7 linked regions of the Homo sapiens genome follow. The protein of the gene in region 6 purifies or fractionates together with the protein of the main gene of each other region. This does not show direct contact. Each region holds a gene or a part of one and is shown on either strand. Other genes may lie near its edges.

Region 1 (3,500 bases), on a different chromosome or scaffold from region 6:
TAACCCATCTTTTCAGATCTGCTCCATGAAGAAGCCACCTTTATTACAAAGACATGATTGTGGTATTTACTGTTAAAATAATGTCTAATTCTTATATAGCATTAAAAGTATTCTAAACTGGCTTTATGAGGTAGGTAGTTTTATTGTCCTCATTTTACAGAAGAGGAAACAGTGGTACTCCATTTGGATACTGGGTAAGACTACACTGAAACAATGTTACAGAGGCCTCAAAAGTATTGATGTTTTTTGGGTGTGGGGTAAGTGAATAATGGAGATTGGAGCTGTCATTGGTCAAACACTAATCAATTCGGGTCTAGGGTTTGGGTCACACATCATTGACTCAAGAAGGTCTCTTTCCCTGACTGAGCCCACATCTCCGTGGTAGAGGTCAGAGTGCCCTGCTCTTTCTCTATCACAAGGCGTTTCACACTTGATTATCCTTTGTTGTTTAACTGCTATTTTCCCCCACAAGACTCTGAGCTCCACAGTGGCAGGGGCCTTGTCTTATTCACTGCTATGTACCCAGTGCACAGACACGTGACATTGCCCAATTCATTCAGGCAACCAATATTTAATGAGACTCTACTATCTTCCAGCACATTTCCAAGTGCCGTGGATGTGGGTTGTTTTGTTTTGAGACAGGCTCTTGCTCTGTCACCCAGACTGGAATGCAGTGGTGTGATCTCAGCTCATCGCAGCCTTGACCTCCCAGGTTCAAGCTATCCTACCACTTCAGCTTCCTGAGTAGCTGAGACCAACAGTGCGTGCTATCAAACCTGGTTAATTTTTGTATTTTTTGTAGAGATGAGGTCTCACTATGTTGCCCAGGCTGGTCTCAACTTCCTGGCCTTAAGCGATCCTGCCACCTTGGCCTCCCAAAGTGCTGGGATTCCAGGCGTGTACCACAGTGCCTGACCCAAATGTGGGTTGTTAAACGAAATGGATTAAATCACTGAATTAAATGAAGAACAAACAGGGTGATGAGTAAAATGGGGGAGGGAGAGGAAGTAAACATGAGTCCCCTTTAAGTGGGGACTATTAGGCAGAAGAAAAGCATCAGTTCCTAAACCCCAAGTAAATGGGAGGAAAATAAACATTTTTTGCAGGTTTTTATAATGCTGGGCAGTGGGTTAAACATCTCTGAGATTTTTTTTTTTGTTTATTCTTCACAAGTGATTATTAGTTCCATTTTACAGAGCTTAAGAGGACAGGTGTCTTGCTCAAGTTTCCTCAGCCAGTTTGAACAAATTGGAACTCGAATTAAGCTTTAGTCTGGTCACTTCAGAGCTCCATGCTCTTTTCTCTATATGTCTATTAAAGATACAGGCCTTAGTTTAAAGGCAATTTCCCATTCAGTCCTTTAAAATGACATTTTCCTCTATATCCTATAATTTCCACAGTATCAGAAAAACATCAAATTGTGATAACGACCAACTGCTCTTTTAGAATAGTTGTAATTCTAAATTGATAGGAGAGTCCTAACCTGTGCAACTCCTCAATTATGGTTAATTTAGAGCATAGAAATAATGCAGAAAACTCTTATAACTCAGAAAATAGTGGAGACGATCTTTCAATGTCACAACTGAGCACAGAGATTAAGGAAATATTATTACAGGCTAAGCATCCCTTATCTGAAACACTTGGGACCCTAAGTGTTTGGGGTTTCAGATTTTCTTCTGATGTACAGGTTGAGCATCCCGAATACAAAATTCTAAAATGCTGCAATGAGAATTTCCTTTGAGCATCATGTTGGTGCTCTAAAAGTTTCAGATTCTGGAGATTTAAAAAATTTTTAATTTTTGTGGGTAACATGGTATATATGTGATATTTTGATACCAGCATAGAATGTGTAATAATCACATCAGGGTAATGAGGTATCCAACACCTAAAGCATTTATTCTTTGTGTTCCAAACAATCCAATTATACTCTTTTAGTTATTTTATTTTTTGAGGTGGAGTCTTGCTCTGTCACCCAGGCTGGAGTGCAGTGGCGCGATCTTGGCTCACCGTAACCTCTGCCTCCTGGCTTCAAGTGATTCTCCTGCCTCAGCCTCCCGAGTAGCTGGGACTACAGGTGTTCACTACGATGCCCAGCTAACTTTTATATTTTTGGTAGAGACGGGGTTTCACCATGTTGGCCAGGCTGGTCCTGAACTCCTGACCTCAAGTGATCCATCCGCCTCAGCCTCCCAAAGTGTTGGGATTACAGGTGTGGGCTACCGTGCCCAGTTCTCTTTTAGTTATTTTAAAAGGTACAATTAAATTATTATTAACTACAGTCACCCTGTTGTGCTATCAAATACTAGATCTTATTTGTTCTATTTTTTTTTTTGTATCCATTAAACATCCCCTCTTCTCCCCTACGTCTTCACTTTCCATCCAGCCTCTGGTAACCATCCTTCTACTCTCCATCTCCATGAGTGTGATCGCTTTAATTTTTAGCTCCCACAAATAAATGAGAACATGCAAAGTTTGTCTTTCTGTGCCTGGCTTCTTTCACTTCACATCATGACCAGATGTTGGAGCATTCTGGATGTTCCACCTGTACTACTACACACTTAGATTAGATTTTGTTCATGAGTGTTTTAAGAATTTTGGATCATTTCAACTATTCTGGGCTACTGGGTTTATTTTATAATTTTCAAAGGTAATTTAGTGATATGAAAGGTGAGGAAAAATACACCTGGTCAGAACAATACAACATAGACTTTGGTGTCTTACAGTGGACCCAGGAAAGTGAAATAGCAGAGAACGTGCCTTCCATGAAGCCAACTTCTAAAGTCCAAGGTGTGCCTGAACCTTAACTCCCATTTCATAAATCCATATAAGATTCTGTGAATTTATCTAACCCCTTTGAATTAGTGAGTATTTTGAATTTGTATATTCTTTTGGTTTGAATTTAGATTACTATCTTTTCTCTAGTTTTTAGCCCACATATCACTGTACTGGCAATCCAGATTCAATGAATAGTGAATGAGTGCTTTATCCAAAATGAAAAATACATACATATATATTTTTTTCTTTTGCACGCATACACACACACACATATTTCTCCTGTATATGTTCTAATATACACACACATATATATTTATCCTACCAGGGTGGCTCCACTTAGAAAGCTATTTTTAAAGGTGACTCAGTGAAGATGAGGGAAAACTAGACATGAAAGCTTCAAACAGCAACCAGGGGAAAAATAAAAATCCGGGATGCTCTGTTCAGTGGCAGATACCAAGCCCTGGCCTCTGTGTTCTTTATATACCTAGGCACAGGATATGGGGTGAAAAGCTTTAAGGTAAAGTCTCATAAATACGACTGTGGTGGCCAGTTGTAGCTTAAAATAGCAAAATGAAAAAAAAATCTGTCTTGCTTTTCAAGACTGACTGGGACAGGTGTAATACAAGAAGCTGTAGCAGGGCACAGGGTAAGTCTTGATTGGAAGAAATTTTCCAGGTGGTAAGAAAATAAAAAACAGGAAATCAAAATACAGAAAGAAATCCTAA
Region 2 (3,500 bases), on a different chromosome or scaffold from region 6:
TAGATGACAGTGAGACTGTCTCTAAAAACAAAAAAAAATAAAAGTTGTGTTTATACTAATGAGCATATGAGTTTATACTAATGAGTACTATGTTTATAATGCATCTATTAAGTGTACAAAGGCATTATGTTTTTTAACAATATATACATCTTAATTTAAGATACTTTGTTTTGCTAAAACATGCTAACAATCCTCTGAGCCTTCAGCAAGACATAATCTTTTTGCTGGTGGAGGGTCTTACCTCAATGTTGATGGCTGCTTACTGATCAGAATGGTGTTTGCTGAAGGTTAAGGTGGCTATGGCAATTTTTAAAAATAAGACAACAATGAAGTTTGCCACATTGATTGACTCTTCCTTTCATGAAAGGATTTCTCTGTAGCATGTGATCTTGTTTGATAGCACTTTACACACAGTAGAAGGTTTTTCAAAATTGGAGTCAATCCCATCAAAGTCTGCCTCTGCTTTACCAAGTTTACCTAATACTCTAAATCATTTGTTGTCATTCAACCATGTTCACAGCATCCTCCCCAGGAAATTCTATCTCAGGAAACCACCTTCTTCGCTCATCCATAAGAAGCAATTCCTCATCTGTTCCAATTTTGTTATAAGATTGTAGCAATTCAGTCACGTCTTGAGGTTCTACTTGCTATCATCAGGCTCTAGTTCTCTTGCTATTTCCACCACATCTGCAGTTACTTCCTCCATTCAAGTCTTGAACCCCTCAATCATCCATGAGGGCTGGAATCAACTTCTCCAGAACCCCTGTTAATGTTGAGATTTTAACCTCCTCCCATGAATCACAAATGTTCTTAATGACATCTAGAATGATGACTCCTTCCCAGAAACTTTTCAATTGACTTTGCCCAGACCCATCGGAGGAATCACTATCAATAGCTGGTATAGCCTTAGGAAGTGTATTTCTCAAATAGTAAGATTTGAAAGTCGAAATTACTCCTTGATCCATGGGCTGCAGAATGGATATTATTAGCAGGCATGAAAACAACATTAATCTCCCAGTACACCTCCATCATAGCTCTCAGATGACCAGGTACATTGTCAATAAGCAATCATATTTTTAAAGGAATTTTTTTTTTCAGTAGTAAATCTCAATAATGGGCCTAAAATATTCAGTAAACCACATTATAAACAGATGTGCTACCATTCAGGCTTTGTTGTTCCATTTCTAGGGCACAGGCAGAGTAGATCTGGCATAATTCTTAAGGGCTCTAGGATTTTCAGAATGGTAAATGAGCACTGGCTTCAACTTAAAGTCACCAGTTACATTCACTCATAACAAGAGAGTCAGCCTGTCCTTTGAAGCTGTGAAGCCAAGCACTGACTTCTCCTCTCTAACTATGAAAAGTACTAGATGGAATCTTCTTCCAATAGAAGGTTATTTCATCTACACTGAAAATGTGTTGTTTAGTGTATCCACCTTCATCGATTACCTTAGCTAGATCTTCTGGTTAACTTTCTGTAGCTTGCATCAGCACTTGCTGCTTCACCTTGCACTTTTATGTTACAGAAATGGCTGCTTTCCTTAAACCTCATGAACCAACAGCTGCTAGTTTCAAACTCTTCTTCTACAGCTTCCTCACCTCCTTCAGTCTTCACAGAATTGAAGGAAGTTAGGGTTCTGCTCTGCAATACGCTCTGATTTAAGGAATGTGGTGGCTGATTTGATCTTCCATCCAGACTACAGAAACTTTCTCCATATTAGCAATAAGACTGTTTCACTTTCTTATCATTCATGTGTTCACTAGAGTAGTGCTTTTAATTTCCTTTATGAACTTTTCCTTTACATTCAAAACTTCACCAACTGACACAAGAGACCTAGGTGTCAGCCTATCTCAGCTTTCGACATGCCTTCCTCACTATGTTAAACATTTCTAATTTTTAAATTTAACATGAGAGACATGTGACTCTTCCTTTCACTTGAACACATAGATGCCATTGTAGGGTTATTAACTGGCCTAATTTCAATATTGCTGTGTCTCAAGGAATAGGGTAGCCCAAAGAGAAGGAGAGAGATAGGGGAATGGCTGATCGGTGGAACAGTCAAAACCCACACAATTATCAGTTAAGTTCACCATCTTTTATGGATGTGGTTCATGGCACCCCAAAACAATTACAGTAGTAACATCAAGATCACTGTTCACAGATCAGCATATTATCTATATTGTGAGAGTTACCAAAATGTGACACAGAAACACAAGGTGAGCATATGCTCTTGGGAAAATGGTGCCGACAGACTGGCTTGAAACAGGGTTGCCACAACCTTCAATTTGTAAAAAAAAAAAAAAAAAAAAAAACTCAGCATCGTGAAGTGCAATAAAACAAGGTATGCCTGTACTCAAGAGTGGCATTTCATTAAATTCTATCTTCCATAGAGAGAACCGTTTACCTTCAAATCTTAGAACAAATGATATACCAAACATTCAGATACTTACTTAAGATTCCCTCTACAGCATCATGCTGAACAAATTTTATGCCTGAGATTTTAATATCAGCACCAGTGCAGTCCACAAAAGTGTCGCCTTTGCCCCTCTTTTCTATCACAATGTCATCTGGTAGGCCATATCCTAAGGAAGAGAGAGCAACAACACTCAAGATGGGTGAGGAAAAACATCTAAACGTGAACACTGTAGAACAAGTTTCTCTAGTTTAAATGACTGCAGATGATAATGAGACCAGTCAACCATGTTGCATTTAAATAAAATCTATCTCCCCACATATCCTGTTTAATTTAAATCAGGGTATCCAATTTTTAACAATAACAACTCTCTGACTAGTCCCGTATCAGGAAGACTACCCTATCAACTATCCCACATCAGCTCAGTACTAAATTCACTTTCAAAAGTGCTATAAAAAATAAATAATGTTCAAGACCAGCCTAGGCAACACAGTGAGATTCCATCTCTACAAAAACCAAAAAAATTAGTCAGGCATGGTGGCATGCACCAATTACTCACTACTCAAGGAGGCTAAGGTGGGAGGGTCACTTGATCCCAGAATTTTAAGGCTGCAGTAAGCTATGATCATGCCATTGCACTCCAGCCTTCATTCTGGGTGACAGAATGAGACCCCATCTCAAAAAATGATAATAATAATAATAAGGACTTACAGCTGAGTCAAAGAACTTTAAAGCACTCACCCTTAGAAGTTTGTTTCTAACTCTAACATTCTATGATTCTAATATAAATTACATTTGAATAAACCTAAACAGTTCTCAAGATGATCTAATTTTAATATTCTCTTAAACAGTTGGCTTAAAATCTGACAAACTGACTAGTTACAGTTACAGGAAAAAAACAGTCTACCTCATTAACAAATAAAAAGCATCAGATCAAGGCTGGGTACGGTGGCGCACGCCTGTAATCCCAGCACTTTGGGAGGCTGAGGCAGGTGGATCACTTGAGGTCAGGAGTTCAAGAGCAGCCTGGCCAACATACAGAAATCCTGCCTCTACTAAAAATATAAAAATTAGCCGAGTGTGGCA
Region 3 (4,287 bases), on a different chromosome or scaffold from region 6:
GAGTGGTTAAACTAAAATATTTATCGTAAGTATGAATTTGTTCCACAAACATAACATTTCAAAGGTAGCTTTGTTTCCTCTTTCCTTGCACTGCCAGCTATTAACTTTCGGTTCATTAGTCACGATTTTCAGAATCCACTTGGCTGCCACCTTCCTGCAGCCAGACCATCTTGGATCAGAGGGTGGGCCAGCCATTCCCACGTCACACCTGCCACGGGATCGATTTTTTCCCCCATTGACCACAGTCACTTTTTGTCAATTAATTAATGTTATTCACCTGGTACCCATCTTGTGAATGGTAGGTCACTACGGAGCGGATTACTACTTCATATCCCATCAATGACAGAGCCATCATTACGAAAACCTTTTCTGACAACCACTGAAGAGAAACCATCTCCACACCGTGCATTTTGCATCACTTCCGTTGCTTCTTTACCTGATTTATCACAAAGACTATGTACCACACATCTTCTTTATTAATGCATTGACAATCAGTGAAGACAATGAAAACCCACCACTTTTGTCCGTGAACTGAGAAAGAAAATGGCAATGTCATATGGCATTAATGATGCATGAGATCTATGGGTGTAGTGTCACGTCTAGGCGTGTAGTAATCCAGTCTTCGGCCTTACTCCAGGGAGAAAGATTCAGCTTTGTTACTTTCCAGTCACTCTCTCCCGTAACACAGCACCTTGGCACAGAAAGCAGAGCGACAAAACCCAGAATGAGGACAGTTAAAATTCAACTCAAGCTACAGCCATCCCAACGGTCCTCCCCAGCTCCCGCGGAATATTTACCAAGACCGTTTAAAGCACTTAATTAATTCACTTCAGCTTCGCTGGAGAGGTCTCAGGGTTCCCGAGACTCCATTACATAATATCTTTCACAAAGTCTATTCCCAGCTCGAATGGAAGATGGATTCTCATCCAGTGTGCGGAGGTTCCATGCCTTTGCTTCCCTTTCCCGGAGTTCGATCCGGCGATACCCTCCCGAGGCTGCAGCCATCGCCCCGGCCCCGAGCTTCTGGGGTACCCGCCACTCTTCGAACTCCAATCTGGCCCCGAAGGTGCAGCCGCCTCGCCCTCCTGGCTCCCAGGCCGGCCGCTGCGGCCACGGTGCCAGCGAGCGCCCGGGACACCGCGACTCTCGCTGCTCGCTGGGTGCGCCCCAAGCCCATCCGCAGCGCACCCGCGGCGCCGGGGCCAGAGCCGCAGCTCGGTGGCACGGCCGGCTCGGTGCGCCGGGCTCGGGGAGGAGGAGATCGGGAAGAGGTGGAGGCGTGTGAGGGAGGGAGGAAGGGCCCGGCCGCCCGAGAGGGGGAGGGGGAGGCGGAGGGGGCCGGCCGGGCCGGGGAGGGGGGGCAGCCAATGAGCGGCGCGCGGCGCGTGGGGGTGGGGGGAAGGTCTGGGGGAGGAGGTAGGATGGGGGAGGGCGCAGCCCGAGCGGCTGAGGCTCCAGCCATAAACAAGCGCCCGGAGGAGCGGCGCAGGAGTGAGGCGAGCGGGGCGCGCGGAGCGGACGCCGCGGATCTTGTGCTGCGCCACCGCGCCCACTCGGCAGCTCGGGAGGCGGGGACCGGCCCGGAGGCTGCGCCGCTGCGGGGCCGGCCGACTCGGAGGAGGAGAGGGAGGAGGCGCCGCCGGCCCGGGCTGGAGCCGAGCGCAGCAGCCACCGCCGCCGCCGCGCCAGAAGTTTGGGTTGAACCGGAGCTGCCGGGAGGAAACTTTTTTCTTTTTTCCCCCTCCCTCCCGGGAGGAGGAGGAGGAGGAGGAGGGGAAGCTGCCGCCGGCGCCAAGGCTCGTGGGCTCGGGGTCGGCGCGGCCCGCAGAAGGGGCGGGGGCCTCGCCCCGCGAGGGGAGGCGCGCCCCGGGGGCCCCGAGAGGGGCGGTGAGGACCGCGGGCTGCTGGTGCGGCGGCGGCGGCGCGTGTGCCCCGCGCAGGGGAGGGCGCCCGCCCCGCTCCCGGCCCGGCTGCGAGGAGGAGGCGGCGGCGGCGCAGGAGGATGTACTTGGTGGCGGGGGACAGGGGGTTGGCCGGCTGCGGGCACCTCCTGGTCTCGCTGCTGGGGCTGCTGCTGCTGCTGGCGCGCTCCGGCACCCGGGCGCTGGTCTGCCTGCCCTGTGACGAGTCCAAGTGCGAGGAGCCCAGGAACTGCCCGGGGAGCATCGTGCAGGGCGTCTGCGGCTGCTGCTACACGTGCGCCAGCCAGAGGAACGAGAGCTGCGGCGGCACCTTCGGGATTTACGGAACCTGCGACCGGGGGCTGCGTTGTGTCATCCGCCCCCCGCTCAATGGCGACTCCCTCACCGAGTACGAAGCGGGCGTTTGCGAAGGTACGGCCGCCCGCTGCGGGCCCCCTCCCACCTGGCCTGCGCCGCCCCCTCGGCGCTGGTTGTGCCGAACAAAGTTTGGGCGAGACTTTCTGGAGGAAAGAGGGCTCTGCGGGAAGAGGGGCGGCCGCCGCCCCCAGGAGAGTGCCCCCGCGGCCCTGCGTTCCCTCTCCTTGTTCCCCCCGACGCTTAGGCAGTCGCGGGCGAGGTTGGGTATGGTGGGTGGGGGCGAGCGAGTGGAGGATCGCCCCTGTCCCCGCGCAGACGCGCACACGTGTGGCCGTTCCTGCTGGGACTGGGTGGCCCGGCCTTGCTCCCCGAGGTGGGGGCGCCGCGGGCGGGGGGCACTGCAGATTCTGCCGCGCGCGAGCCCCTCGGGGAGCCCGGCCCTACCGCCCTCCCCGCACTGGCGCAGTGTGGCACCGTGAGCCGCACGCCGGCCGCGAAAGTCCTTTTTCTGTTGGCGGAGGAGACGTGTCTCCAGCTCGCACTCCCCGAGTGACTCTTATTATTTTTTCCTTGAGCTCTTCCTTCACCCCTTCCTCCTCCTCCGCAGATAAATCAGTTTCAGCCGCGGAATATGTCAGCCCAGGGGAAGTTACACACGGTGGTTACTCATTTATTTGCCCATTGTAAACGGTCAAAGGCTTTCTCTCCTGAAAGGAAAGGGGGGTGGGGGTTGCACCTGGGAGTAAAAAGTTGTTGCTATTAGTGGCTGCTTTTTAATATCAGATACCCGCGTGTTTCCTGTCGTGTTGCCGGTTCCTCCTTTTTGTTTGTTTGACAGCGGGGATTGTTCTGCTGGCTTCTCCAGCACGCATTGTGCTCCGCGGTGTCGAGATTGACGGTGGGAGAAACAGATTAGATTAGTGGAGTCTTTCTCGTTGGGGAGCCAATGTTAGTGCGTGTTGGCTTTAATCCCTGCCCGCTTGCGTCGGCCTTCAGGGTGCCTGGTCTGGTTTGGGGTCTAGAGCGAGGCAGTGAGTTATTTTGATGTGGCTAACGGGGGCACGGTTCGGTAAGCATCAGTTAAAAGTGGGATCCCTGCTCTGGCTGACGTTGGGCTGATGATGCTGTTCCGGGGGCATCCTGGCGAGTGAGCAGAGCGCACGCAGCAGCCTCGTTTCTGGGGAGGCGGCGAGGAGGGACAGGCGCCCTCTGCCCGGCGTGCCTTCCTCACTACTCACAGCCAGCACCGTCCAGGGAACGGTTTATTCCGAAGCATCTTTGTGTGTGTTTGTTTAGTATGCTGGGATACTGAAAAAGGAGGTGACAGCCTTAAGGATAACAATGGACCTATTAAAAGGCTTCAGTGCTGTGATTCTCTCTAAATACGCACAGACACACACATAGGTACTTATTTATACCTGAATAGTTTGGGGTTTGGACAGTTCAGGAAAATAGGGGAGGGTTTTCTGGTTTGGAAGCTAGTGGGCAGTGATGAGTGAAGGGAACTCTTCTCAGAGGGGAGGGACTTGCTCTTGCTTTGCTGCACACGTAAGACATTGGGTTAGAAGAGATCATTTGCCTGAAGTACAAAAAAGCCTCTCACCTGGTATTGTCCCCTTTTATAACTTGTTTTTATGCCTTACCTCAAGAAAAATGGCCATGAGATTAACTTCTGATACCATTGTATGTGTTTTGACTTTGGGAATTCTGAATGACCTAGACTAAAAGATGCATCTTTGAACCCTGCCGCTTCAAGTGTATAACTTAATCCGGCCTCTCGTAAATCTGAAAAGAACAGGCGACATGAAACACAGTTAAATGCAGTGGAAACTGCTGTGTTCCAAGAAGGACTTTTGCAGGTTCTGAAGATTCTAACCCTTGTTTTGTTTCTTCTTAGTCTGTTTCTGGTGAAGGAAGTGCTCAGGGAACATTTACAGTAATCGAGTGTTGTGGCAGCAATATCCCATGTCACAGTATAGAGTTATTTTGGCAGTTTCGTGAGCCTTTC
Region 4 (3,500 bases), on a different chromosome or scaffold from region 6:
AGTCTTGCTCTGTCACCCAGGCTGGAGTGCAGTGGCGCAGTCTCAGCTTACTGCAACCTCTGCCTCCCAGGTTCAAGTGATCTCCTGCCTCAGCCTCCCGAGTAGCTGGGACTACAGGTGCCCACCACCACACCAGGCTAATTCTTTTGTATTTTTAGTAGAGACGGGGTTTCACCATGTTGGTCACGCTGGTTTCAAATTCCTGATCTCAAATGATCCACCCACTTCAGCCTCCCAAAGTGCTGGGATTACAGGCATGAGACATCGCACACGACCTTTTTTTTTAAAAAAGGAAAAAAAGGGTCATGCTCTGTCTTCCAGACTGGAGTGTGGCGATGATTACATGCTGTAAGCTTAAATTCCTGGGCTCAAGCCATCCTCCCATCTTAAGCCTCTTGAGTAGCTGGAATTACACGTGTGCCACCACACCTGGTGATTTTTGTTTGTTTGTTTTTTGAGACAGGGTTTTGCTCTTGTTGCCCATGCTGCAGTGCAGTGGTGCAACCTCAGCTCACTGCAACCTACACCTTCCGATTTCAAGTGATTCTCCTGCCTCAGCCTCCCGAGTAGCTGGGATTACAGGTGACTTACACCACGCTCAGCTAATTTTTGTATTTTTAGTAGAGATGGAGTTTCACCATGTTGGCCAGGTTGTCTCGAACTCCTGACCTTGTGATCCGCCCGCCTCGGCCTTCCAAAGTGCTGGGATTACAGGCATGAGCCACCGCGCCCGGCCACACCTGGCTAATTTTTAAAACAAAATATAGAGACAGGCTCTTGCTAAGTTTCTCAGGCTGGGCTCGAACTCCCAGCCTCAAGCAGTCCTCCTCCCTTAGAATCTCAAAGTGCTGGGATTACAGGCATGAGCCACTGTGCCTGGCCTCGGCAAGAAATCTTAACCTCACCTTATCATGATGTGAAGCAGATTAATATTAATATGCCTCAAGGAAAACATGGAGGGGGAAGATTAAATGCAAAGACAAAGGTGAAGGAGAAAGAGTTGTGACCTAGAACCAAAAGAGAAAACAAGAAGGGCTGGTCCGGCGTGCTGGTTGGCAAAAGAAACATCAGAAGGCAGCAGAGGTAGAAGAGGGATGACTCCTGATCCAGCACTTATGCCTACAATCCTACCATAGGCCCATTCCTCTCTCGTTTGCTGGACTTTTTTTTTTTTTGAGGCGGAATCTCGCTCTGTTGCCCAGGCTGGAGTGCAGCGGCACAATCTCGGCTCACTGCAAGCTCTGCCTCCCAGGTTCACGCCATTCTCCTGCCTCAGCCTCCCAAGTAGCTGGGACTACAGGTGCCTGCCACCACGCCCGGCTAATTTTTTGTATTTTAGTAGAGATGGGGTTTCACCGTGTTAGCCAGGATGGTCTCAATCTCCTGACCTCGTGGTCCGCCCGCCTCGGCCTCCCAAAGTGCTAGGATTACAGGCGTGAGCCACCACACCCGGTCCTGCTGGACTTTTAATAATCTCCACAGAGGCAATCACTGGGTGGGGAGAGAGAGGCTGGTAACAATGTAACAAGTTCCATAGAAAAACTGGTGCCTTTAAGAGCCCTGAGGGAGAGATCAAAACTGGACTGGAAAAACCTGTATGAATTGTATTGCCAGACCATTATTTTTACTTAAAACACTTATAATTAAATACAATGCACTTTCAATTCTGCATCAAGAAAATAATTAACACCCAATAAACTGTCCTCCAAAATTACTTCCTATTCTCTATGAAGATAAAGGCTTACTGGGTTCATCTTTCTGATGGAGTGTAGTAAACCTGAGTAGTTTCAAATTTAAAACTAAGTTCATATTTTGGATAGAAAAATGAGTACTATGGAAAGAATTTAAAAATCCAAGTAATACACCTGTGCAAACACTTTGAAAAGTATAGCATTATAACCTGAAGATTAAGGATTAACACTGTCTGATGTTTAATATTATTGCTGTTTACCTTAAAATACATGAATACATCCACTGAAACCTAACGTTTGAGCAGATTTGCCAGAGGAAGCAATCTATTCAACCAAAAAGTATTTCTTATTAGAAAATATTAAAATCTTATTCCAAATGGAGCAAGAATCAAGTTTCATGCTGGCAGGAAGACTTTCCTCCCATAATCATCTCATTAAACTAACTGCACCGAAGGCCTTGTCAGAACCTTGGTAGCTTAAGGAGAGGAGGTTACAGTGGGAAGCAAAATAATTAGTGGGCTGAGGGTTTTGTCTTGTTTTTACCACTGAAAGACGGCAATCTTCCATGCCTAACTGAATTCAGGACTCTGCACAGTTTTTAACACACTATCTCCATTTTCAGAAATCAGAGGCCTAATACATGCATTCTTTCCATTATCCATGACAGGATGAAACTTAGGGACTCTGAAGTTGGGCATTTCTCCCTAACATTCCCTCATCTCCAGGGCTGAGGCAAGGAGAATGAATCTGTAACTGTGCAAAGCCACAGTGCTGCCTGGTAAAGCTGTTTGTCAAGTGAAATATAAGGCAGCCAGCAAGCTTCTCTGCCAAGGCCTCACAACTCAACAGCCCATCACCCAACCCAAGGGAACTGAAACCTAAGCCCATGTGGGTAAAACAATCCACTCGGATGATGAACGCAGCTCTGTTATTTCATGCAGTAACTAATTTTACGTATCACATGTTCGTAAGATATGCAGCTCCTGTTTAATATGTGGTTTAAAAAAAAAATCTCTCATTAGCCTCAATAGCTTTTAGTAAACCACACCAACTTGTTTAGTGGGTCTAGCCACACGGGGGAAGTTACCTCAAATTCAAATTTAGAACTGCCAAAATTAGTCCTCTGTTTCTGCCAGAAGTTGTCTGGCTTGATGATCAGGGCCACATGGATGCAGCAGGGGAAGGACTCCTGCAGGATCTTCAGAAGGGGCTTGATGGAGTCCCACTTGGACCCACGCATGTCCACGATCACCGTGAAGCCACGCTTGCAGACCTCCTCGCTGCAGAGAAAGAAAACATGGCTGAAGACGGGTTACATCTCTTGCCACTCTGCCTGGTCAGAGTCCCACTGGGTGCCACAGACCCAGCTTCCCTCCCCTGCTGGACACGTGCGGAGGCAGGGGAAGGAGCACACTGTGCTCAGCTCCTTCTCGTCCCTCCCTTGTACCATAAAGGAAGAGACCCAGGCTATACACGCTTCATGTTCAACCTGCAAAACCTGTTAAGATTTCAATTTTGTATTAATGGTTTTGCATCCCGTCTTCTTTTCAGGAAAACAACGGTCACCATGCCCATTTCTCCTGACTTTGGTGCATTAATTGATTACATGAACTCCTCCAGTCACTCCTGCGAGCAAAGGTCTCCAGGGAGCATCGGGTGAGTACAAAACCCTGACAGCCTGCAACAAAACCCAGACTGGGGACAGTCTGAGACCTGTGGACGGCAGTTACCCCAGGACTCCCAGCACCCCAGGTGCTGAAAATGACCCCCCACTAGCATGGCTGGCAATGATGAGAACTTTCTTATGTT
Region 5 (3,500 bases), on a different chromosome or scaffold from region 6:
TGCCTGCCACCACGCCCAGCTAACTTTTTATATTTTTAGTAGAGACGGGGTTTCACCGTGTTAGCCACAATGGTCTCGATCTCCTGACCTCGTAATCCGCCTGCCTCGGCCTCCCAAAGTGTTGGGATTACAGGCGTGAGCCACTGCGCCCGGCCAACAGTGGCAGATTATTAAGTGCTGATTATTTTTAATGAAGTAAATTATTTTTAAGTGCTGATTATTTTTGATAAAGAGAAAAGAGGAAGAAATAACTTTCTTAGCTGGTGCTGTGTGAGTGTGGGCAACTGTACAAATGTAAATGCAGAGTCACAACATTGTGACTCAGATCAGGGAGCAGTGTTCATTCTCTGGAGGAAGTCAATAAAGGCCCTAGAGGTGTATGCAGGATTCATCTCTGAAAGACAGGTGCCTGTGTATTTGCTAACAGCATGGGGAGCTCCACGGGTGTTTCTTCAAACAGAAGTTGGAAGTTTCTGCAAACCTCCCCATGCTCTTAGCAAATACACAGCCTCCAGAGAGGCTGTACATTTCTGGAGATGCGTGGGGGGCTCTGGGCATGACGTTCTCTAAGGATAGAATCCTCTGAGAAGATAGTTCCTGAGAAGATAGGTGGTTCTAGAGGAGAAAGAGCTTTCTTGTGGAAACATTCAACCCAAGGAGAAGGCTGGTACCTGTGGGTTAGCAGGGGCTCCGTGCTGTACATACAGGGCCAATGCCTGGGCAGAGCTACCCTCCCGGATCAAGTGAGTTGCATACAAAGCCACATACTTGTGCAGAATCTTGTAGTTCTGTACAGGGGTGGAGGAAAAGCATGAGTGAGGCTGGGATCGGCAAGACCAAGCAGTGAGGTGACTTGAGGCCATGTATTTGTTGAGGGGAAAAAGGGTGTACGCAAACCTCTGACCCCAGTTTCAGACTGAGCTTCTCTGATGCCCATTAGAAATCTTTGGGCTTTGGGTTTTTGTGGAGGTAGAAGAGATGCATCTTTGAGGCAGGTGGGGAATCAAGGGAAAATGTAAAGAAAAACTGGGAATGGGAAGAGAGCAGTACCTGCTTGGTAGCTGTTTCAATGCACTTGTCCCACTGGCCCTGCTCCACATACAGGTCCAAAGCAGCTATCACATCCACACCCACCAGCTGGGTCAATGGAAGACAGAGTTACAAGAGAAAAGAGATGACATGAGGGAAAGAAGAGGGAGAGAGTCTTGTGAGTCTCTCCCTGCATTCTGCCTCCTGCTAACTCTCCAAGTCTCACCGAGTCCACTTTGCCCTGATTCTTGAGGAACTCTTTATAATGCTGGTCCACATAGTCTTCATACCTGTGAAGATGTTCAGAGAGCTCCATCTTCATGTTCCAGAATACCAACCCTCCCGGTAAGACTTTCTCCCAGTCTTTACAAAAGGAAGTAAAAGAGAATTTCGCAGTAAGAAGGGGTTACAAGCTTACCTGGGATCTAACTCCTTAGCTACACGCTTCGCCTTGTTCCACTCCTCACCCTCGATGAAAGCATCGATTGCTTCCTTGACAAGGTCCAGATTCAGATAGAGCTCTGCAGCCTGCACAGTGGGAAATCAGCGTGGAGACTTTCTCCTCGCTCCCAGTCTTCCCACTGTGAGCTCTCCCATCTGTTTCCCCAGGACTGCAAGCCATGCCCACCAGGAGGCCCACCTCACACACCTTCCTGGGTGTAGATGTCACCCTTGCACCCATCTCTGTGAAATCTATTTCTGTTCCATCTCAGCATCCTACTTACTGCACTGTGCTTTCCAATTCCAATCAGCTGGGGTCCTACAGCCAGAACGACTTCCATATTACGTTGGGGAGGCAGAAACTTGATGGAGAGTTCAGCTGCCTGAGTGGTTGAACAGAAGATGGAAATGGGTAGGAGAGACAAATACCGCTGAGTCCTCAGCCTCATCCATTTCATACATTTTTCTCCTCCAGATGCCAACTTTTTCTCTTACTCTCCCCTTCAACCTTGCACCCTCCTGGGCAAAACCTGGCTCATGGTCCATTAGATCCTTTGATTAGCCATCAGTGGACCTATCTTTCCTCTCAGTTCATTAACTCTTTCAGATACTTCCTGCGCTGCCTGAGGTCACTGCATTTGAAACTTCCGCCTTTGACAAAATCATTTTCAAGGTCTTTGTCATAAGTAAAATCTTCGTAGCAGAGTACAGAGAAAGGACTCCTAAAATAAGGAGTCCAGGGCATTCTGTAACTATTTGTGTTGGGCTTTTATGAACTTGTTTCTTCATTCACACACACTGGATTTTGAAGATTTAGTATAAAAAAAGAATGGAAAATATCTAAATAATGTGTGTGAGTACATGTTGAAATGGTAGTATTTTATTTAATTTTTTTAAGACAGAGTCTTGCTATGTCGCCCAGGCTGGAGTGCAGTGGCACAATATCAGCTCACTGCAACCTCTCCCTCCCAGGTTCAAGCAATTCTCTTGTCTTGGCCTCCTGAGTAGCTGGGATTACAGGCACCCACCACCATGCCCAGCTAATTTTTGTATTTTTAGTAGAGATGGGGTTTCACCATGTTGGCCAGGCTGGTCTCAAACTCCTGATCCTCAAGTGATCTGCCCACCGTGGCCTCCCAAAGTTCTGGGATTACAGGCATGTACCACTGCGCCCAGATGAAATGGTGTATTTTAGATATACTGTGTTAAATAAAATATATTACAATTATTTTTACCTGTTTTTTTTTTTTTTTACTCTTTTTAAATGTGGCTACTAGAAAATTTAAATGACATGTATGGCTTACATTTGTGGCCTGCATTATATTTCTAGTGCCAGTGCTGGTATAGATGGTCTTGATGATAACCTTTCAACACTTAAAACTCAGAAATTCTACAAACCCAAGTGTTCAATGAGATCACTCTGTTTCCATTATGATGCTGACATCCTTACCAGATTTCAATTTCCACACAATCCAATTTCACTGTAGTTTATGCTAATCCCCTCTGGTCTTTCCCTCACCTGTTCTTGCCTCCCTTTCTTACTGCCAAGCCCTTCAAAGCTTAATCTGCCCTGTCTGCATCAGGAAGCCATTTTCTGACTAATCTGAAAAAGGTACAGTCATGCCATGCTCCCAAGTTACATATATCAGATGCTTATTCAATACTGCTGATTAAAATCTGCTAGAACCTCAAAACCAATCATCAGCCCCTCTCTTTCTACTTCTCTCCCTCTAACTTCTAGGGGTTATTGAGTTTTAAGACCTCAAAAGGCCAGGCACGGTGGCTCACGCCTGTAATCCCAGCACTTTGGGAGGCCAAGGCTTGTGGATCATGAGGTCAGGAGATGGAGACCATCCTGGCTAACACGGTGAAACCCCGTCTCTACTAAAAAAATACAAAAAAATTAGCCCGGCATGATGGTGGGCACCTGTAGTCCCAGCTACTCAGGAGGCTGTGGCAGGAGAATGGCCTAAACCCAGGAGGCGGAGCTTGCAGTGAGCCGAGATTGCACCACTGCACTCCAGCCTGGG
Region 6 (3,500 bases):
TTCTGCTGTGTCCAGGGAAGGGGGGTCACAGGGGTGCTGGGCACAGAGCACTGGACGTGTCAGTCCTGGCTCTGGCGCGGCCCTGCTTTGGCTGCCGTGGAAGAAGCCTGGCCTGTCCTGGCCACCCACATAGAAGCCTGGCCTGCGGCTGTCATGAGGGCGTTGGCCACAGGTGTGGGCTCTAGTCCTCCTCAGCACACCCAGCTGCCACCACCGTGAGGGATGACACATCCTGTGTCCCCAGCACAGGGGATGGTCCCACAGATGGAATGTGCTAAGACTTCCTTCACCACTCACAGCAGGGCAACAACACAGGCCCCCTGGCCTCTGGGCCATGGCGGGCCAACATGCATGCAATTTCAACTAGGAAAGAACTAAACACACTGCAAACATCCTATTTCCAGTGACAGCTGTGCGAGTAACAGGAACTAGATGGACTGAAACTCTAGAGTGAGGAGAGCCCTTCCTAATAAAGCAGACAGTGCTGCCACTCTCTTTCCCGACAGCATTTGCTGACGACTCTGGGCCCAGGCACAGGGCGGGAGGGCAACCTCAGAACTTCTGAATGTCCACAGGCTGGAAGGGCAGAGACCAGCCCTTCCAGACCAGGAAGGGCTGGAAACCAGAGGACCCCCACATGCATTTTCTCCACAGCACGTTCGCTGAGTTCTGGGGCAACAGAGGGAGCCGGGAGTTGGCTGGAAGCTTCTGACAGGCAGTGTGAAATATCCTGCAGTTTGGGTTACTTAGTAAACAAAGTCTGCCCAGGCAGAACACATGAAGCATGCTACCGAATACCACGCTGCTGTCCAAAAGAAGAAACTGGTGCTAGTGGCCAAGGAACATGAAAAGTATAGAAAGGGGTCAAAGACAAATGCTGACGACAAAGGCAGCCTGGAGGGGGCATGTATAGATGCTGCCCTCTGTGTGAGGAGGAGGAGGGGAGTGAACTCACAGCAGTGGCAGGAGGGGCTGGAGTGCCGAAGGCTTCATTTTCCCTACATAACCTTTTATAGCTTTTGAACAAAGCTATGTGATCATATTACCTATGAAGTCAGTTGCACTATAGGGGAAAAGCCCCACACCCAAGCGGCTAACCCATAGTGGGGCTTGGGAATTCAGGCTGCTGTGGACACTGGCAGGCCCCAGGCCTGTTCTACAGGCCCCACAGGCCTGGCCAGAGCTGTGGCTGCTGTGAGAGGCCTGTTCAGTAAATACATTGGCAGTCAGGACACAGGTGAGCACGGAGGGAGTGGTGTCGGCAGGACAACACAGACCAAGAGGACTCGGATTAACCAGGTGGGGGAAATAAAAAGGCCAAGAGGGGATGCTGGAGTCCTGCAAGATCCCCAAGTCTGCAGGAGCAACTCGACTGGAGTGAGCCGGGGAGGCACAGGTCACCAAGCACACGCTGAAATGTTTCTGACATGAACCTCACTGTATGTTTTCCTAAGTTGGGGGTCAGTTTGATATTACAGGCAATTCTTTGTGGCTGGGGTAAGGAATTCAATGCAAAAAGGAAATTTTTATGTATTTATTTTTGAGATGGGGGTCTCACTCTGTCACCCATGCTGGAGTGCAGTGGTGTGAACATAGCTCACTGCAGCCTCAAACGCTGGGGCTCAAGTGATCCCCTGCCTCAGCCTCCTGAGTAGCTGGACTACAGACTACAGGTGCTACTCCACCCAGATAATTTTTTAAATCTTCTGTACAGGCTGGGCGCGGTGGCTCATCCCCATAATCCCAGCACTTTGGGAGGCTGAGGCGGGCAGATTGCCTGTGGTCAGGAGTTCGAGACCAGCCTGGCCAACATGGCGAAACTTCTTCTCTACTAAAAACACAAAGATTAGCTGGGCACGGTGGCGGACACCTATAACCCCAGCTACTCGGGAGACTGTGGCAGGAGAATCGCTTGAACCCAGGAGGTGGAGGTTGCAGTGAGCCGAGATTGTGCCACTGCACTCCAGCCTAGGCAACAGGAGTTAGACTCGTCTCAAAAAAAAAAAAAAAAAATTCTGTATAGACGGAGTCTTACTATGTTGCCCAGGCTGGTCTCAAACTCCTGGCCTCAACTGATCTTCCTGCCTCAGCCTCCCAAAGTGCTGGGAGTACAGGCGTGAGCCACTGTGCCCAGCCCAAAAAGATTTTAAAAGAAATCTTAGACATTGTCCTGTCCCTTCTAAGACAAGTCACTAAAACGGAGCCCCCTCTCCACCCTAGGCTCCCACAACCCACCCAAGATAAGTCCCGCATCTGCTCCTGCCTCAGTATCCCTGGCTCTGCTCCCAGCACGGGCATGGGGGTCTGACCCAGTCAAGCCAGAGGGACTGGGCAAGGGGCCTTGAGTCCTCTCCCAGGATGAACCCCAGCCTCGGGCTGGCCCAGCTCACCTTTTCCAGGATGCTGCCCCTGGTTCCCCACAGGACTCCCAAAATCCAGGTCCCAGTCGGTGCTGCTGGATGAGGAGAAGCTGGTGGGGGTTCCTCGGGGGGCCAGGGGCCTGCTGGGGCCATCTCTCACACAGCTCTGCAGACCCAGAGGCAGAACAGGCTCTCTGGTCGCTTCTGTAGGGAACAGCACAGTTGTGGTCACCAGGAGGCTCACTGGAGAAGAGACTCCTGGGCCATGGGGTGCACGGGCACCAGAAGACCCTGCCCCAAAGTATCTCCCACTAGGGTTTCCCTGTGGCACTGATTCAACTCCCATAGCACGTGACCCACAGAAACCCCACAGTGAGTCTCGTGACTGGAGAGAGTTCTGAGAGAAGGAAGTAGGGCAGGAAGATCTGCACTGGCTTTCAGCACATGCGGGCGGCTGTTTGGGAGTGAGTATGAAAGGCAGCCTGGGGGAACGGGCCTGTGTCTCAGGAGGCCGGGGAACACAATGACCCGACAGTCCTCAGCATCTGCCTCCGCTGCCACGCTCAGGGACATGCCACCCCGCGCCCATGGCCACAATCTACCTTCACTGTGTGATCTGTGGGGTTGCAGTTCAGGCTTCTGAGACCTAGAGTCTCCTGGCTGGGGGTTCTGGGAACAAGAAGTGGGTGGCAGCTGGGAAGGTGACGACCCATTTGGGGGAATGCCCTTCAGACAGGCTTCCAGGGCTTCCAGCGGTGAGCTTGAGGCACTGGCAGCTGGAACAGGAGAGAGCACCCTGTTACCATCTCCCACACATTCCAGCCTTGCCCATCAGACCCCTGGCTGGCTCTACCCGACGTGCTTTCTACAGGGGTGACGAGTCCTGTACCAGGCTCTGGCACCTGCCAGGCAGGAAACCCTTCTGTGGGAGACTGATCGGCTCTCGCCCCCCACCCTGCTCCCTGGAAGGCATGAAGACAGGAGGGGAGTGAGGAGGGCCACATGTCAGCAGGGGTAGCTTTCAGGGCCAGGAATCACTGCAAAACGAAGGCCCCGAGGCAGCGGGGGCTTGGACAAAGGCCTGGGCTGAGGAGGCTGTGGATGAAGGGATTCACTGCTTGGGAAGAAAGGCCAGGGGGC
Region 7 (3,500 bases), on a different chromosome or scaffold from region 6:
CTGCAGCTGCCTCTCCTTCGCACTCGCCGCTCTGTGTCTGCAGCTGCCTCTCCTTCCCCAGTCGCTGCCCCGTGTCTGGGTCCCCGCGTGCGCCTCTGCCCGAGGCCTCTGCCTGGGGGCGTCTACAGGGTCAGTGTGGGCCGCTGGTCCTGAAGCTCCTGGCCCGAGGGCCAGCAGCGCTGTGGGGCTTCCTTGTTAACACCCGAGCAAGGGCGGGCAGGCCACACGCCTTCCCTCAGGAGCTCCAGGTTCCAGCCCCCAAGGCCTGGAGCAGTTTCCATCCAATCCCGGGCTAGGTGGAGCCCCAGGCTTAGCGGTCGTTCATATACCTCCGCGGGAGCCGGTGCCGCCCAGGTGTCCTCACAGCAGCCACTGCCTCCCGGCCCCTCTAAGAGTCATCCACACTTGCAGGAACTCAAAGCGGCCTGTGGCCTGTGGGGCTTGAGTTTTCTAAAGGATTCCTTTAAGTGTGCTTTTTACCCCAAAAAACCATATGACCAAGACTGTTTCCGAATTACGGTGGCATCTGTTGTGTGTGGTCGACTCATAATACGCCTGGTTCCCCGAACGTGAGCTGCACCCGTCTGCGTCTCCCGGGGCTGGTCCTGGGTCGCGTGGCCGCAGTAGATCCCTGCGTCGGACGCGCACCTGAGCAGACGTAGCATTCCCTGGATTTGTCCTGCGCTCAGTTCAGGGAGCCACCTGCGCCCTGGGCCCCTAACTAGCCACGAGGAGAGCACAGCTCCACAGCGCCGGCCCGTGTGGCCTGGGCCAGCACCTGCACAGCTGGGAATCGGCCCAGAACCAGGCGCTCACTGTCCCTGTGAACCCCCGGCCCGGCGCGGCCCCAGCTTTCCGCGTTCCTCTGGAGCCCACTCTCGGTCCCAGGGCAGGATGCCGTGTGCGGCCGGGCTGCGCTGTTTCTCACGCACTGCGGCCTGAAGCGGGGGGCGGCACCTTGGCTCGTGCGTCCCAGGGACACCGGTGACCGCAGGGATGGCCGCCCAGGCTGCGGGACCTTCTCGTGGCCCAAGCTGACGGCGACGGTGCTTTCACTCCTGCCTCCCGTTGGTGAGGTCTCCCTCCCGCCTCCCGTTGGTGAGGTCTCACTCCGGCCTCCCGTTGGTGAGGTCTCACTCCCGCCTCTCCTTGGTGAGGTCTCACTCCGGCCTCCCGTTGGTGAGGTCTCAATCCCGCCTCCCGTTGCTGAGGTCTCACTCCCGCCTCCCGTTGGTGAGGTCTCCCTCCCGCCTCCCGTTGCTGAGGTCTCCCTCCCGCCTCCCGTTGGTGAGGTCTCACTCCCGCCTCCCGTTGGTGAGGTCTCCCTCCCGCCTCCCGTTGGCGACGTCTCCCTCCCGCCTCCCGTTGGCGACGTCTCCCTCCCGCCTCTCCTTGGCGACGTCTCCCTCCCGCCTCCCGTTGCTGAGGTCTCCCTCCCGCCTCCCGTTGCTGAGGTCTCCCTCCCGCCTCCCGTTGCTGAGGTCTCCCTCCCGCCTCTCCTTGGTGAGGTCTCCCTCCCGCCTCCCGTTGCTGAGGTCTCACTCCCGCGTCTCCTTGGTGAGGTCTCCCTACCGCCTCCCGTTGCTGAGGTCTCACTCCCGCGTCTCCTTGGTGAGGTCTCCCTCCCCCCCTCCCGTTGCTGAGGTCTCACTCCCGCGTCTCCTTGGTGAGGTCTCACTCCCGCCTCCCGTTGCTGAGGTCTCACTCCCGCCTCCCGTTGGCGAGGTCTCCCTCCCGCCTCCCGTTGGCGAGGTCTCACTCCCGCCTCCCGTTGGCGAGGTCTCACTCCCGCCTCCCGTTGGCGAGGTCTCACTCCCGCCTCCCGTTGGCGAGGTCTCACTCCCGCCTCCCGTTGGCGAGGTCTCACTCCCGCCTCCCGTTGGCGAGGTCTCCCTCCCGCCTCCCGTTGGCGAGGTCTCCCTCCCGCCTCCCGTTGGCGAGGTCTCCCTCCCGCCTCCCGTTGGCGAGGTCTCCCTCCCGCCTCCCGTTGGCGAGGTCTCCCTCCCGCCTCCCGTTGGCGAGGTCTCCCTCCCGCCTCCCGTTGGCGAGGTCTCCCTCCCGCCTCCCGTTGGCGAGGTCTCCCTCCCGCCTCCCGTTGGCGAGGTCTCCCTCCCGCCTCCCGTTGGCGAGGTCTCCCTCCCGCCTCCCGTTGGCGAGGTCTCCCTCCCGCCTCCCGTTGGCGAGGTCTCCCTCCCGCCTCCCGTTGGCGAGGTCTCCCTCCCGCCTCCCGTTGGCGAGGTCTCCCTCCCGCCTCCCGTTGGCGAGGTCTCCCTCCCGCCTCCCGTTGGCGAGGTCTCCCTCCCGCCTCCCGTTGGCGAGGTCTCACTCCCGCCTCTCCTTGGCGAGGTCTCACTCCCGCCTCCCGTTGCTGAGGTCTCACTCCCGCCTCCCGTTGCTGAGGTCTCACTCCCGCCTCCCGTTGGCGAGGTCTCACTCCCGCCTCCCGTTGGCGAGGTCTCACTCCCGCCTCTCCTTGGCGAGGTCTCCCTCCCGCCTCCCGTTGCTGAGGTCTCCCTCCCGCCTCCCGTTGCTGAGGTCTCCCTCCCGCCTCCCGTTGCTGAGGTCTCCCTCCCGCCTCCCGTTGCTGAGGTCTCCCTCCCGCCTCCCGTTGCTGAGGTCTCCCTCCCGCCTCCCGTTGGCGAGGTCTCACTCCCGCCTCCCGTTGGCGAGGTCTCACTCCCGCCTCCCGTTGGCGAGGTCTCACTCCCGCCTCCCGTTGGCGAGGTCTCACTCCCGCCTCCCGTTGGCGAGGTCTCACTCCCGCCTCCCGTTGGCGAGGTCTCACTCCCGCCTCCCGTTGGCGAGGTCTCACTCCCGCCTCCCGTTGGCGAGGTCTCACTCCCGCCTCCCGTTGGCGAGGTCTCCCTCCCGCCTCCCGTTGGCGAGGTCTCCCTCCCGCCTCCCGTTGGCGAGGTCTCCCTCCCGCCTCCCGTTGCTGAGGTCTCCCTCCCGCCTCCCGTTGCTGAGGTCTCCCTCCCGCCTCCCGTTGCTGAGGTCTCACTCCCGCCTCCCGTTGCTGAGGTCTCACTCCCGCCTCCCGTTGCTGAGGTCTCACTCCCGCCTCCCGTTGCTGAGGTCTCACTCCCGCCTCCCGTTGCTGAGGTCTCACTCCCGTCTCCCGTTGGTGAACCTTTGGTTGAAACGTGTTTGTTTCCGTGATCACACTCGAGGTCTCTCTCTCCGTCTGAAAGCTGTACCTTTGAGGCCTGAATATTCTGCTCTTTACAAGTCGGTCTTGGAGCCGCGGTCAGCTTTGCGCTCTGTGGATTTCATGCTGGACTTGGCTCTGCTCGACGGGAAAGCGTGGTGGGCCCCTAGGATGGGCCGTGCAGGGGCATCGGGGCCCCGGGGCTCTCCCAGACCCAGGCGTCCTCTCAGCTTTTCGGTCCCCACCGCATCCAGTCTCGGCTCCGGGGGGTGGTGACGTCGGGGCCGAGGCACGGTGCGGGCTGCCCATCAACCGCATTCCTTTCCAGCCCTTTCTACCAAGATGATAGACA

What was found.
Region 1: the proteins of KRABD3 (region 6) and JPH1 purify together in Homo sapiens (affinity purification with mass spectrometry; one large-scale study listed by BioGRID and IntAct). This does not show direct contact.
Region 2: the proteins of KRABD3 (region 6) and SHCBP1 purify together in Homo sapiens (affinity purification with mass spectrometry; 2 studies listed by BioGRID and IntAct, with this or other methods). This does not show direct contact.
Region 3: the proteins of KRABD3 (region 6) and CRIM1 purify together in Homo sapiens (co-immunoprecipitation; one large-scale study listed by IntAct). This does not show direct contact.
Region 4: the proteins of KRABD3 (region 6) and TRIO purify together in Homo sapiens (co-immunoprecipitation; one large-scale study listed by IntAct). This does not show direct contact.
Region 5: the proteins of KRABD3 (region 6) and IFT172 purify together in Homo sapiens (affinity purification with mass spectrometry; 2 studies listed by BioGRID and IntAct, with this or other methods). This does not show direct contact.
Region 7: the proteins of KRABD3 (region 6) and PPP2R3B purify together in Homo sapiens (affinity purification with mass spectrometry; 2 studies listed by BioGRID and IntAct, with this or other methods). This does not show direct contact.

What each region holds. Positions count from the first base shown.
Region 1 is NC_000008.11:74,238,041-74,241,540, forward strand, and holds part of JPH1 (junctophilin-1), read right to left. Parts: intron 1-3,500. UniProt on the Homo sapiens protein: Junctophilins contribute to the formation of junctional membrane complexes (JMCs) which link the plasma membrane with the endoplasmic or sarcoplasmic reticulum in excitable cells.
Region 2 is NC_000016.10:46,597,380-46,600,879, forward strand, and holds part of SHCBP1 (SHC SH2 domain-binding protein 1), read right to left. Parts: intron 2,584-3,500; coding exon 2,452-2,583; intron 969-2,451; coding exon of another isoform or gene 907-968; exon of another isoform or gene 1-906. UniProt on the Homo sapiens protein: May play a role in signaling pathways governing cellular proliferation, cell growth and differentiation. May be a component of a novel signaling pathway downstream of Shc. Acts as a positive regulator of FGF signaling in neural progenitor cells.
Region 3 is NC_000002.12:36,354,291-36,358,577, forward strand, and holds the start of CRIM1 (cysteine-rich motor neuron 1 protein precursor), read left to right. Parts: upstream 1-1,487; 5' UTR 1,488-2,002; coding exon 2,003-2,333; intron 2,334-4,287. UniProt on the Homo sapiens protein: May play a role in CNS development by interacting with growth factors implicated in motor neuron differentiation and survival. May play a role in capillary formation and maintenance during angiogenesis.
Region 4 is NC_000005.10:14,286,342-14,289,841, reverse strand, and holds part of TRIO (triple functional domain protein), read right to left. Parts: intron 2,972-3,500; coding exon 2,779-2,971; intron 1-2,778. UniProt on the Homo sapiens protein: Guanine nucleotide exchange factor (GEF) for RHOA and RAC1 GTPases. Involved in coordinating actin remodeling, which is necessary for cell migration and growth. Plays a key role in the regulation of neurite outgrowth and lamellipodia formation.
Region 5 is NC_000002.12:27,448,244-27,451,743, forward strand, and holds part of IFT172 (intraflagellar transport protein 172 homolog), read right to left. Parts: intron 1,854-3,500; coding exon 1,755-1,853; intron 1,558-1,754; coding exon 1,448-1,557; intron 1,320-1,447; coding exon 1,256-1,319; intron 1,138-1,255; coding exon 1,051-1,137; intron 789-1,050; coding exon 672-788; intron 1-671. UniProt on the Homo sapiens protein: Required for the maintenance and formation of cilia. Plays an indirect role in hedgehog (Hh) signaling, cilia being required for all activity of the hedgehog pathway.
Region 6 is NC_000007.14:149,724,951-149,728,450, reverse strand, and holds part of KRABD3 (protein KRBA1), read right to left. Parts: intron 3,137-3,500; coding exon 2,963-3,136; intron 2,565-2,962; coding exon 2,391-2,564; intron 1-2,390.
Region 7 is NC_000023.11:341,908-345,407, reverse strand, and holds part of PPP2R3B (serine/threonine-protein phosphatase 2A regulatory subunit B'' subunit beta), read left to right. Parts: intron 1-3,476; coding exon 3,477-3,500. UniProt on the Homo sapiens protein: The B regulatory subunit might modulate substrate selectivity and catalytic activity, and might also direct the localization of the catalytic enzyme to a particular subcellular compartment.